2 separate regions of the Homo sapiens genome follow, and region 1 is linked to region 2. Evidence: fine-mapped expression QTL. Tissue or cell type: monocytes after Pam3CSK4. Region 2 holds a variant in brackets; the other region holds the start of a gene. All regions are shown on one strand. Distances are between the middles of the regions.

The links. PIP is the estimated chance that this variant, and not a neighbour inherited with it, causes the effect.
Region 1: it holds the start of MFF, and the variant in region 2 is fine-mapped to the expression of MFF in monocytes after Pam3CSK4 (Quach 2016, PIP 0.95).

The regions. Positions count from the first base shown.
Region 1 is chr2:227,322,090-227,327,350 of GRCh38, reverse strand. MFF (mitochondrial fission factor) reads right to left here and starts at 2,100. Exons shown (of 9, transcript NM_001277062.2): 1 at 1,924-2,100. It overlaps MFF-DT (MFF divergent transcript), which reads left to right and starts at 2,187. Exons shown (of 14, transcript NR_102371.1): 1 at 2,187-2,233. RefSeq lists a silencer at 1,759-2,048 and an enhancer at 2,229-2,278.
Region 2 is chr2:227,406,616-227,411,876 of GRCh38, reverse strand. No RefSeq gene overlaps it. Among named protein-coding and RNA genes, the nearest start is that of SCYGR1, 21 kb to the right of the region's middle. RefSeq lists an enhancer at 68-267. The variant C/TAC (reference allele first, on the strand shown) is at 2,435.

The DNA.
Region 1 (5,261 bases), 85 kb after region 2:
TCCAGAAGTTTTGTACCTTAGAATCCAGTAGGCAACCAGTACGTGATTCTGTTACATAACAAACGAGGCAAAATCTCTCTTAGAATCACAGATGATTTCATATTTCTACTTTCTAAGCCCAGTGGTTCCCAAACACCAGTAACTAACTTGCCAACTTCATGGGTTTTTTTTTTCCCATATTCACAGAGTACATTAACTTTTTGCTACAGTTAATTTTTTTAACTCGACTTTTTAAAATCAAAAAAGTATTGTAAAAGAAAATTTTGTATCACTACCTTAAACCATGGCTGTACATATATAAATACAGATTGCAAAAACATCCTATTACAAAAAAATCCTCATCCACGTACCGCCTAGAGTCAAGTCACATGCCACTAGCGGAAAGTGTACCAATTTTGGGACACAATGATTCCAGCCCAACTTTCTCATTTTCTGTATTAGAACACTGGAACCCAGAAAGCCTCGGAAGTCACCGAAACAACTTGAGTCAAACTGACTGTGGTTGCAAATGTTTATGTACTTTTCAAAAACAAACATACAAACAAACAAAAACAAACCAAAAAAAACCCTCCAGTTGTTTATTACCTACTGCGTGGACCTAGTTCACACAGATGGGCCACTCTGCACACCCTGTTTCAGTTCTTTTTCAAAGAAACTATATTTAAAAAGTCACTGCAAACTTTTAAAACTATATATTAATGAACTTTAAAATAAGGTTATGAACCCACAGAAAAGTTTCAATACCAGAAGAGAGGAGAGCGAAGACTAAACTTTGCAATTCTGAAAGGAGGCAGCTCTATCAGACAGGAAGGGAGAGAACACAATTTCCTTTTGGAAAAAATGGCAAAACCAATATACAAGCCTTTGAAACCAAAAGATAGAAGGTCCCCCAAGCAATTTAATTGCATGGGAAAAGACTACTAAGTATAACTAAATCGTCCTAATTTTCCTAAGGGTTTTTCTTTTGGGCTCTCATTAGCCAACGGAATTGAGGCAGAAAAAATGTTTTTCACGCAGGGAGACAAAACATTTGTGATCATCTTAAGTCTCTCGGTGGATGAGAGGCCTGAATACAAATGGTTCTATATTTGGGCAGAAGGGCCAGAAACCTTTTTTTTTTTTTTCCCCTTTAATGTTCTCCAATGAAAACATGTCACTTTTGAAAGGGTGCTCTTCCCTCGAGAATGCCCTTTGCTTCTAACTTTGTGGGAGGTAGACAGGGGTGTTCTTTTACGATAGTAATAGTAGCACACGTCCTGCAGAGGAAGGTCAGAAGCTCGGCGGAACAGGAACCGCAGCTTTCCTCCGGCTTCCCAGCTCCTGGAAGGAAACCCGAGAGCAACTGCCTGCAGCCACATCTGCGAGCAGGGATGCTCACAGACGGACAGGGTGGCCCGCAGCCACCCGCGATGCCACAACCTGGGCTTCCAACAAGGCCCTTCTTTTCCAAAATGTACTTGCCACAAAACAACACAAAAACCTCCTTTTAAACAAGGCAGGTTTAAGGTCAGCCTGTAAGGTGTCAGGGCCTTGGCAGGGAAGGATGAGTGAAGACCTGCAAAGCCCGGCGTTCACGCTCACGGGACTCCCGCTGCTTCCCAAACCCCTATTTTCCAGTCGGAAAAGTCCGGGTTAATACACAAAAGGAGACGCCGAACCACACAAGGTGAAGAGGTTCGCCCAAAAACACCTGCAGAAGACGCTCCTCTCCCTCGCTCTCCTCGGGGACTCAAGGTCCCGGGGAGGAGGAAAGACCAGGGTTGAAGGCAAGAGGCCCGGGGACGGGACTCGGGTCAGGGAGACACTACCGGGGGGGCCGGGGCCACCGCGGGTCCCTGTTGGCCGGAGGGTCTCGGCGGCGGCGATAGGCCTGGCAGCCAGCTCGGGCGGCAGGTCGCGGGTCGGGAAGACGTCAACACTCACCCCTGGGCCCACAGGAGGGTCCCGGCGAGGACCCCCGCCCTCTGGCTCCCGGGGCGCTCGAGTGGGCGCTCTCAGAGGTGGTTGGCTGAGAGCACGGAGGCGCCCAGGGACAGCACCGGCGGAGCGGCCCGCAGAGGGCCAGGGCAGAAGCGCGAAAGGCGCGGGCTGGCCCCTTCTGGGAGCCGTAGCGGAAGAGTGTTCGTGGTCATGTGACGCGGAAAAGGGCGGACGCGTGGCCCACGCACTGGAACGGCTCCACGGTAAGCGATGCGCAGACATCTTTGTTGTGGGCGAAACGAGGTGACCGCAGGTGACTCCTCTTGCGGTTAAGTTTAATTCACACTTCGGCTTTATTAGATTTTGTAATCTTTAAGAACTTGGTGTTTGCAAGGTAAACCTTTGGTAGCCAATTAAAACAACTTTTTCAGGACCATCTGGCATGAAAATTTCTATGCTGTGAGGCTTAGGAATTCTCATATGTAAATCAGCTCCGCCAGTGATTCCATGAGTTCCAATTTGATACTTCTTAAGCCCTCGGTTGATCAGACCTTGTCTTCCATGAGAATTCCGGGAGAGGGGAAGTTAAGTTTCACAGTAGTTGGCGGCATCGTTTAGCTTTGGGAGAGCACTCTCTGCTTCTGAACACCCAACCACAGACTCTTCCCCCCAGGAAGCCCTTGCTTAGAGCGGGGGAAAAATGGTACAGTGCTTGTCAGTATGGGAATGTACTGAGGCCAAATAATGTGATATTTTATATGCCTTGGTTTTCACAAACACCTAAAGGTGTACACATGACTTATGTACTCCCCTACGATCTAATTGATATTCTAGAGATGTTACCATTCTTCAAAATGATTTGGGAAGCCCTCTGAATTGCGTTCTTGGGCTTCTTAACACTGGTGTAGGGAAAGTGAAAATATTTCCTCTCCCCTCTTGGGGTCTTGGCTGGGCCTAAGAATTAAACTGATGAGGAAAAGAGTCAAACTCTAAAATATTTGAAGAGATTTATTCTGAGCCAAATGTGAGTGACCATGGCCCGTGACAGAGCCCTCAGGAGGTCCTGAGAACATGTGTCCAAGGTGGTTGGGGCGCAGCTTGGTTTTATGTATTTTAGGGAGGCATGAGACATCAATCAAATAAATTTAAGAACTACATTGGTTTGGTTCAGAAAGGTGGGACAACTCAAAGCAGGGGCTTCCAAGGCTGTAGGTAAATTTAAACATTTTCTGGTTGACAGTTGAAGACCTGGGACCCATAGAAAGGAAATGTTGAGGTTAAAATAAAAGATTGTGGAGACCAAGGTTCTTTTGAAGTCTTATAGTGGCTGCCCTTAGAGACAATGGATGACAAATGTTTCCTATTCAGATCTTTAAAAGGTGCTAGATTCTTACGTAATCTCTTTAGGATTGGGAGGACCTGGAAGAAAATGATCTAGCTATGTTAATAGAAATTCTATGTAGATGCAGATTTTCCCCCAACAAAGGACAGCTTTGCAGAGCCGTTTCAAGATATGTCAAAAACTAAAAAAAATGTTTTGCGGTAAAATATTTTGATTTTGTTTCTTGTCTCGTTATGCCAGTGTCAGATTGGAAAGTAAGTCACAATATATAGGGTTAAATAAAACCCATCTGATGAGAATTTATGGATTGTAGGGCATGAATCCCTAGGCCCCTTAGATAGGAATTTGAGCAAGATTAAAAAAAAAATCAGAGCTTAGTCTCCACTGACGTAAAATAGAGACATAAAACATAACAGGAGGAAAGCATACAAATTTTATTTAGTAATTTTTACATTTACATTGGAGCCTTCCCTAGAAAAATGGAGACCCAAATTAACAGTTGGACCCTAAGTGCTTTTGAGTCTCCATTTTTCTAGGGAAGGCTAAAAAGAGTAGTAAATTGTGAAAATGTGAGAAAACAAACAGATTTGGGTTAGTGCAGTTAATGCAGAAGTGACTAAGAAGATAAAGGTTGTTGTAACAAAGTGGAAATGAAAATCGGTAAGTTTGTGCAGATACAGCTCAGCTTTGACTCCATGTCTCTGGTGTTGAGAACATCTCCCTTCCTCCTTATACAGGGAGGGCACCTTTCATACGGAAGTTTTATCTCCTGCTTTCAGGAAGGAAAAAGGAAAGCCACAGTGCTCTTTTTGCATTTTTTTTTTAAGTGCCTTTGACTCGAAAATAATCTTTATGCCAAAGTGCCATATTTTGGGTTGGCATATCCTACTATTGACAGAGCAGAAGCACTGCCATTTTAAAGTGCCCCTTGATCAAAAACCACCTAAATCCAACCCAGAGGGCATCAGCCTAATGGCTGTCAGCATGACCACAAACCACAAATGACACCTCCGACCAGAAACATTCTAACTCTAAGATAAACCCCTCTCCCACCAGACACATGCCAGCCCCAAGATAACCTTCCCTCTGACCGAGCGATGTCAGCCCCAAGATAACCTTCCCTCTGACCGGAGCGATGTCAGCCCCAAGATAACCCCTCCCCTCCAACCAGAGACATTCCAACCCTGTAATAAACTTCTCCTCCAAGCAGAAATATTCCAAGCCTGTGATAAGCTCTCTCACCCTAAACCCTTAAATACTCTTAGTCTGTAAGAGAGAGTGCTCCTGACCAAAATTGGCCAGAAGCCCCTCTCAGGTTTATTCTCTAAAATAAACCTATCCTTGATTGTTGAGCCACTTTTTGTGTTTCTCTCTTCTTTCTTTAACTCTTAACAACTACCCTACAGAGACAAATAAGCCTTTAAGAATAGATTGATTTTTAGGAATAATAAGTCATTCCAAGTCAATCTTTTGTGGGAAGATAGAGATCAAGTTGGGAGATCATGCATTAGGTTGGTTCTGAGGACTAAGCTCTGATTTTTTTATCTTGCTCAAATTCCTATCTAAGGGGTTTGGGGAGTCATGTTCTCCAAACCATAAATGCACATCAGATGGGTTTTATTTAACCGTGTATATCATGACTTACTTTCCAATCTGACTCTGGCATAATAAGGAAGAAAATAAAAATATTTTACCCAAAAATATCTTTCCTTGCCCTACCTTGAAATTGTCCTGCAAAGTCTCTTATGGGAAAAATCCACATTCTGTAGAGAATCTGCTTTCCCCTTTGTTTTCCTTCCTTCTGTGTCCGGAATTGGTGGGTTCTTGGTCTCGCCGACTTCAAGAATGAAGCTGCGAATACTTGCGGTGAGTCTTACAGTTCTTAAAGATGGTGTGTCATGTGTCCGGAGTTTGTTTCTTCAGATGTTCAGATGTGTCCGGAGTTTCTTCCTTCTGGTGGGCTCATGGTCTTGCTGGCTTCAGGAGTGGAGCTGCAGAC
Region 2 (5,261 bases):
AAAATACAAAATTAGCTGGATGTGGTGGCACACACCTGTAATCCCAGCTACTCGAGAGGATGAGGCTTGAGAATCTCTTGAACCCGGGAGGCAGATATTGCAGTGAGCCAAGATGGTGCCACTGCATGACAGCCTGGGTGACAGAGCAAGACTCCGTCTCAAAGAAAAAGAGAAAAGAAAAAGAAAAAAAGAAATGCTTCTGTGTAATGGAACTTCTGTTTGGGGAGCAATAGGTAAAAATAAAACCCTAGGAAATCCCCAGGTCTCTCTCAATGGGTTTGAGGTAAGAGTTGGCAGGTTGGTTTCGCCTCTGCTTGCCTGTGGGCAGAAAACCAAATGAATCAAAAGGCAGCCAGAATGGAATAACTAGCACCTTAAGATGACACCAGGAAACCTTGAGGGTTTCGCAGGCCCTCAGGATCTAAGCAGACAGTATGACTAATTTGTCTGTGCCCTAGACTTAGCTGCCTGTCTTCCCACACTTGTGGCTTCTCCTGAAAGAGCAGGAATGGCTGTGTTGAGTTGTTGCCCTGCAAGGTTGGACTTGAATAAAATTCAAAACACTTCACATCTTTGGGACTTAATAGTTTTTCTGAAGTAAGCTCCATACAGTTTCTCCTGTATAGTCAATGGGAGGGAATAAGGAAGAATGGGATATGTCTCCCTCCAAGAACCCAGGCACATTGCGTAGCATTAATAGACCCAAACAAAAGGATTCCCCTTCTTTCTCCAGAATCCCTCTTCAGCTGCACAGCTTGCAGCCACGAGAAGGTGAGTCTCTGTTGTGGAGAGAGACACATTTGGCTGACTAGGGGTACTGAGAATTGTCAACCTATAAATAAAGCATTCAGTCAGAAATTGTTAAACTCAGAAAAGCAGCTGAGAAATTAGTAACGGTGTTACTACGTTAAGATTTAAAGAGCTGGCCAGGCACGGTGGCTCACACCTATAATCTCAGCACTTTGGGAGGCCAAGGCGAGTGGATCACCTGAGGTCAGGAGTTCGAGACCAGCCTGCCCAATGTGGTGAAACCCCGTCTCTACTAAAAATACAAAAATTAGCCAAGTGTGGTGGCACATGCCTGTAATCCCAACTATTCAGGAGGCTGAAGCAGGAGAATCGCTTGAGCCTGGGAAGCAGAGGTTGCAGTGAGCTGAGATTGTGCCACTGCACTCCAGCCTGGGTGACAGAGCAAGAGACCATCTCAAAAAAAAAAGAAAAAAAAAATTAAAGAGCAAAGCAAGGCATGTGCCCGTAGTGCCAGCTACTCTGGAGGCTGACATGGGAGGATGCTTTGAGCCCAAGAGTTTGAGACCAGCCTGGGCAATATAGCAAGACCCTATCTCTAAAACAAAATTAAATTTAAATTTAAAAATATTTATGGAGCTGAGGGTTTTTAGAAGTATTTTACCAACTTACAAATTCTTACAATTTAGCAGCTCCAACACAGGCAGAGGGCAGATACACAAGAATCACTGCCAGTCACGAGGCTGAGGAGAATTTCAACACTGGTATGCATCTGTTCCTGAGGCCAATCCCTTAGCAAGGAAATCAGACACTTCTTTCAGATGCCTAAAAGTATCAAACACAAATATTTATGCGTCCAGGTATTAAAATTCATCAAAGGACCTTTCAAGTCGTTATACTAGCTGCTGTTGTTCTGTTCAACTCTAAGTTTCAGGAGCTTAACAAGTGTGTCCCAGACCCAGCCAATTCCCTAGACCACCCAATGTACCCGCAGTGGCCAAATGTCCCCTCTTGGGGTGTGGCCAGTGAGATTCTCAACTAACTTTTCTTCTATGTCTTAATAACACAAGACCTTCTATCCCTCCTTTTTTTTTTTTTTTTTTTTTTGAGATGAATCTCACTTTGTCGCCCAGGCTGGAGTGCAGTGGTGTGATCTCGGCTCACTGCAACCTCTGCCTCCCAGGTTCAAGCCAGTCTCCTGCCTCAGCCTCCCGACTAGCTGGGATTACAGGTGTGCGCCATCATGCCTGGCTAATATTTGTATTTTTAGTAGAGACGGGGTTTCACCATGTTGGCTAGACTAGTCTCGAACTCCTGACCTTAGGTGATCTGCCTGCCTCAGCCTCCCAAAGTGCTGGGATTACAGGTGTGAGCCACTGTGCCCGGCCGTATTCTTCCATTTTTAAGATTTGAGGCCCTTCTCTTAATTTCAAAGGGAAATGACTAAGAGGTATAACTCAGGAAAGACGAGCTGAATGTTAAGGGACAAGAAACGTCAGACTCCAGAGTATCCACAATGCTTCCAGACTGATTCTAAGTCCAGTCACATTTCTGTTAAGAGTGATCTAACAAGAAGCCAACAAATTATCTAGTCTAGAATCAGGGCTTCAACTGGACAGACCATTCAATACATTGAATATATGTGTGTGTGTATATATATGTGTGTGTGTATATATATATATATATA[C/TAC]ACATATATATATATACTTTTTTTTTTTTTGAGACAGAGTCTCACTCTGTCACCCAGGCTGGAGTGCAATGGCACGATCTTGGCTCACTGCAACCTCCACCTCCAGGGTTCAAGCAATTCTCCTGCCTCAGCCTCCCAAGTAGCTGGGATTACAGGCATGCGCCACCAAGTCCGGCTCATTGCCTGGCTAATTTTGTATTTTTAATAGGGACAGGGTTTTGTCATGTTGGCCAGGCTTGTCTCAAACTCCTGACCTCAAGTCATCCTCCCGCCTCATCCTCCCAACGTGCTGAGATTATAGGTGTGAGCCACCATGCCCAGCCACATTGAGTATATTTTAATGTATATTTAATATATTCCTTTTCAGAACTTACCTAGATTTAGAAATTTTAAAAAGATGCTCTCAAAAGGCATATGAAGACTATCTCTGCTAATTTATACAGAGACAGTCTCTAGAAAGATGTAAACCACTAGTACCCAGGGTTGCCTCCGTTGAGAGGAACTGGGTGCCTGGGGAATGGAGGCGAAGAGAGTATGGAGTTTTTTCCATTTGTATGAACCTTTTGACTTTTGTACTGTGTGTATGTATTACCTACTCAAAAGTAAGTAATTTTTTTTTTCTTTGAGATGGAGTCTCGCTCTGTTGCCCAGGCTGGAGTGCAATGGCGTGATCTTGGCTCACTGCAACTTCCACCTCCCGGGTTAAAGAGATTCTTCTACCTCAGCCTCCCTAGTAGCTGGGATTATAGGAGTGTGCCACCACCATGACCAGCTAATTTTTGTATTTTTAGTACAGATGGGGTTTCACCATGTTGGCCAGGCTGGTCTTGAACTCCTGACCTCTGGTCATCCACCTGCCTCGGTCTCCCAAAATGCTGGGATTACAGGCTTCAACCACCGTGCCTAGCAAAAATAGGCAATTTTAAAATTATATGTGAAGAAAAATCTGTAAATGTTTTTGTCATAACCCCCCACCCCCAACCCACCACCACCATTTTTTTCCTGTAAAAATTTTTTCAAGGCCTGAGGAAAATGATGAATTAAACTTTTCCTGACAGGAAAGACAACATCTGAAAATTCTGCCTGATAGATAGAGAGAAGCATCCTGGCAAGAGACACGGAGCTGACAGACGAAGAGATGCACGTCTGACAGAATTGGGACTATTCACCCAAAGTGAGACAAAGTGAAATGCCAAGCACATTGAGAATCTCTTCCTTCTTACTGTCAACGGATTCACCTAATCAAAGCACTTTTAGTCACTGCATCCAATTTCCATCCTCATCCAACACATGGTGGGGTCTTTTTCTCGTTTCTTCTGAGTTGACACACACAAAACCCAAGAGTCCCACTTTTGGCGAGGAACGTGTTGCTGTCAGCTTGCATTTGTTACCGCACATTGGTTCCCCGTGTCCCAGTAATGACCCCCTGTAAAGGCCACTGGGCAAGAGAATTGCAAGATCGAGCGAGGCGGCGGGAATTACAGGAAAGGATTAACGGCAGAACAGCCTGTTGCGACAGCGAAAAACAGCCCGAGGACAGGGGCGTGCTCCCATCTGACAGGCGGAAGTGTGCCAGGGTTTATGTATTAGGTCACAGCAAGAAAGCTATTTTTGCTGTGCCCTCTGACCTTCTGTAGAAGGTGAGCCCCAAGATGCCTATGATACACACCAGACTTTTGCAGGCTGCCCTGACTCAAGAGGGAAGAGCAGATGCTGACTAGTGCAGGGTCCTGTAGAGTTTGGGAATCCACCATTCACAACAGGATGAAAGGATTTTCATGGGTGTTGCCATCTGCTGGGTATGTGTGTTGGCAGCGGGGAGTCATTTACTAAGCAGATGCAGCCTTTCTGTTCCTCCTTCCTCAAACTCCAATTTAAAAAATAGCTAGTCCGGGCACAATGGCTCATGCCTGTAATCCCAGCACTTTGGGAGGCCAAAATGGGAGGATCTCTTGAGCTCAGGAATTTGAGACCAGCCCGGGCAACATAACGAAATCCTGTCTCTACAAAAAATACAAAGATTAGTTGCGTGTGGTTGTGAGCACCTGTAGTCCCAGCTACTTGGGGGACTGAGGTGGAAGGATCACTTGAGCCCAAGAGGTTGAGGCTGCAGTGAGCTGTGACTGCACCACCGCTCTCCAGCCTGGGCAACAGAGTGAGACCCTGTCTCAAAAAAAAAAAAATAAAAAAAATCTAATGGCCAAGTAGGCTTTAGAATTCTAAAAAGCTAGCAACGAAAGGAAACATGGTGCTATTGGCAGAGATTTGAAGTAGCAGTGGTCTCCCACAAAAGTGCTATGATGTACAGAGACTTAGAGGAGTCGCAGTGTAACCCTGGTTAAAGAGATTGGGAAGGTTCCATGGAAGAGGGGCTGAGCATTGTTCAATTTGTTGAGTAAACCCAAAAAGCAGTGCACTGAGATCAGGCCAAGCTAGAGATATCTCTGTGGCAAACACTGAACACTTTTATCACCCCCTTACATTTGGTAGAAGATTGTTGGAATCACCACTCTCCACAAACAGTCAGAAAAACTGGAACCAGATGGCATCTCTAAAAAAATGTGGCCCACAGCCATAAATGTGTGACTTGCATTCTCTTTCAGAACAAGAAAAGATGATGTAGATACTGCTGGTTTGGACTGGCTCAGAGAGAAAAGAAACAAATAGATGGGAGTACGTGCCAAGGGTCACTGATGCTTCCAGAGGGCAGTGGCCTCGGCTGTCTTACTCAAGGCTGAATTCTTAGCCCCTACAAGACTCATGCCTGGCATGTAACAAGTGCACAGCCAGTTTTCCTCCAATGAATGAGGGGCTTTCTCAGAATAAA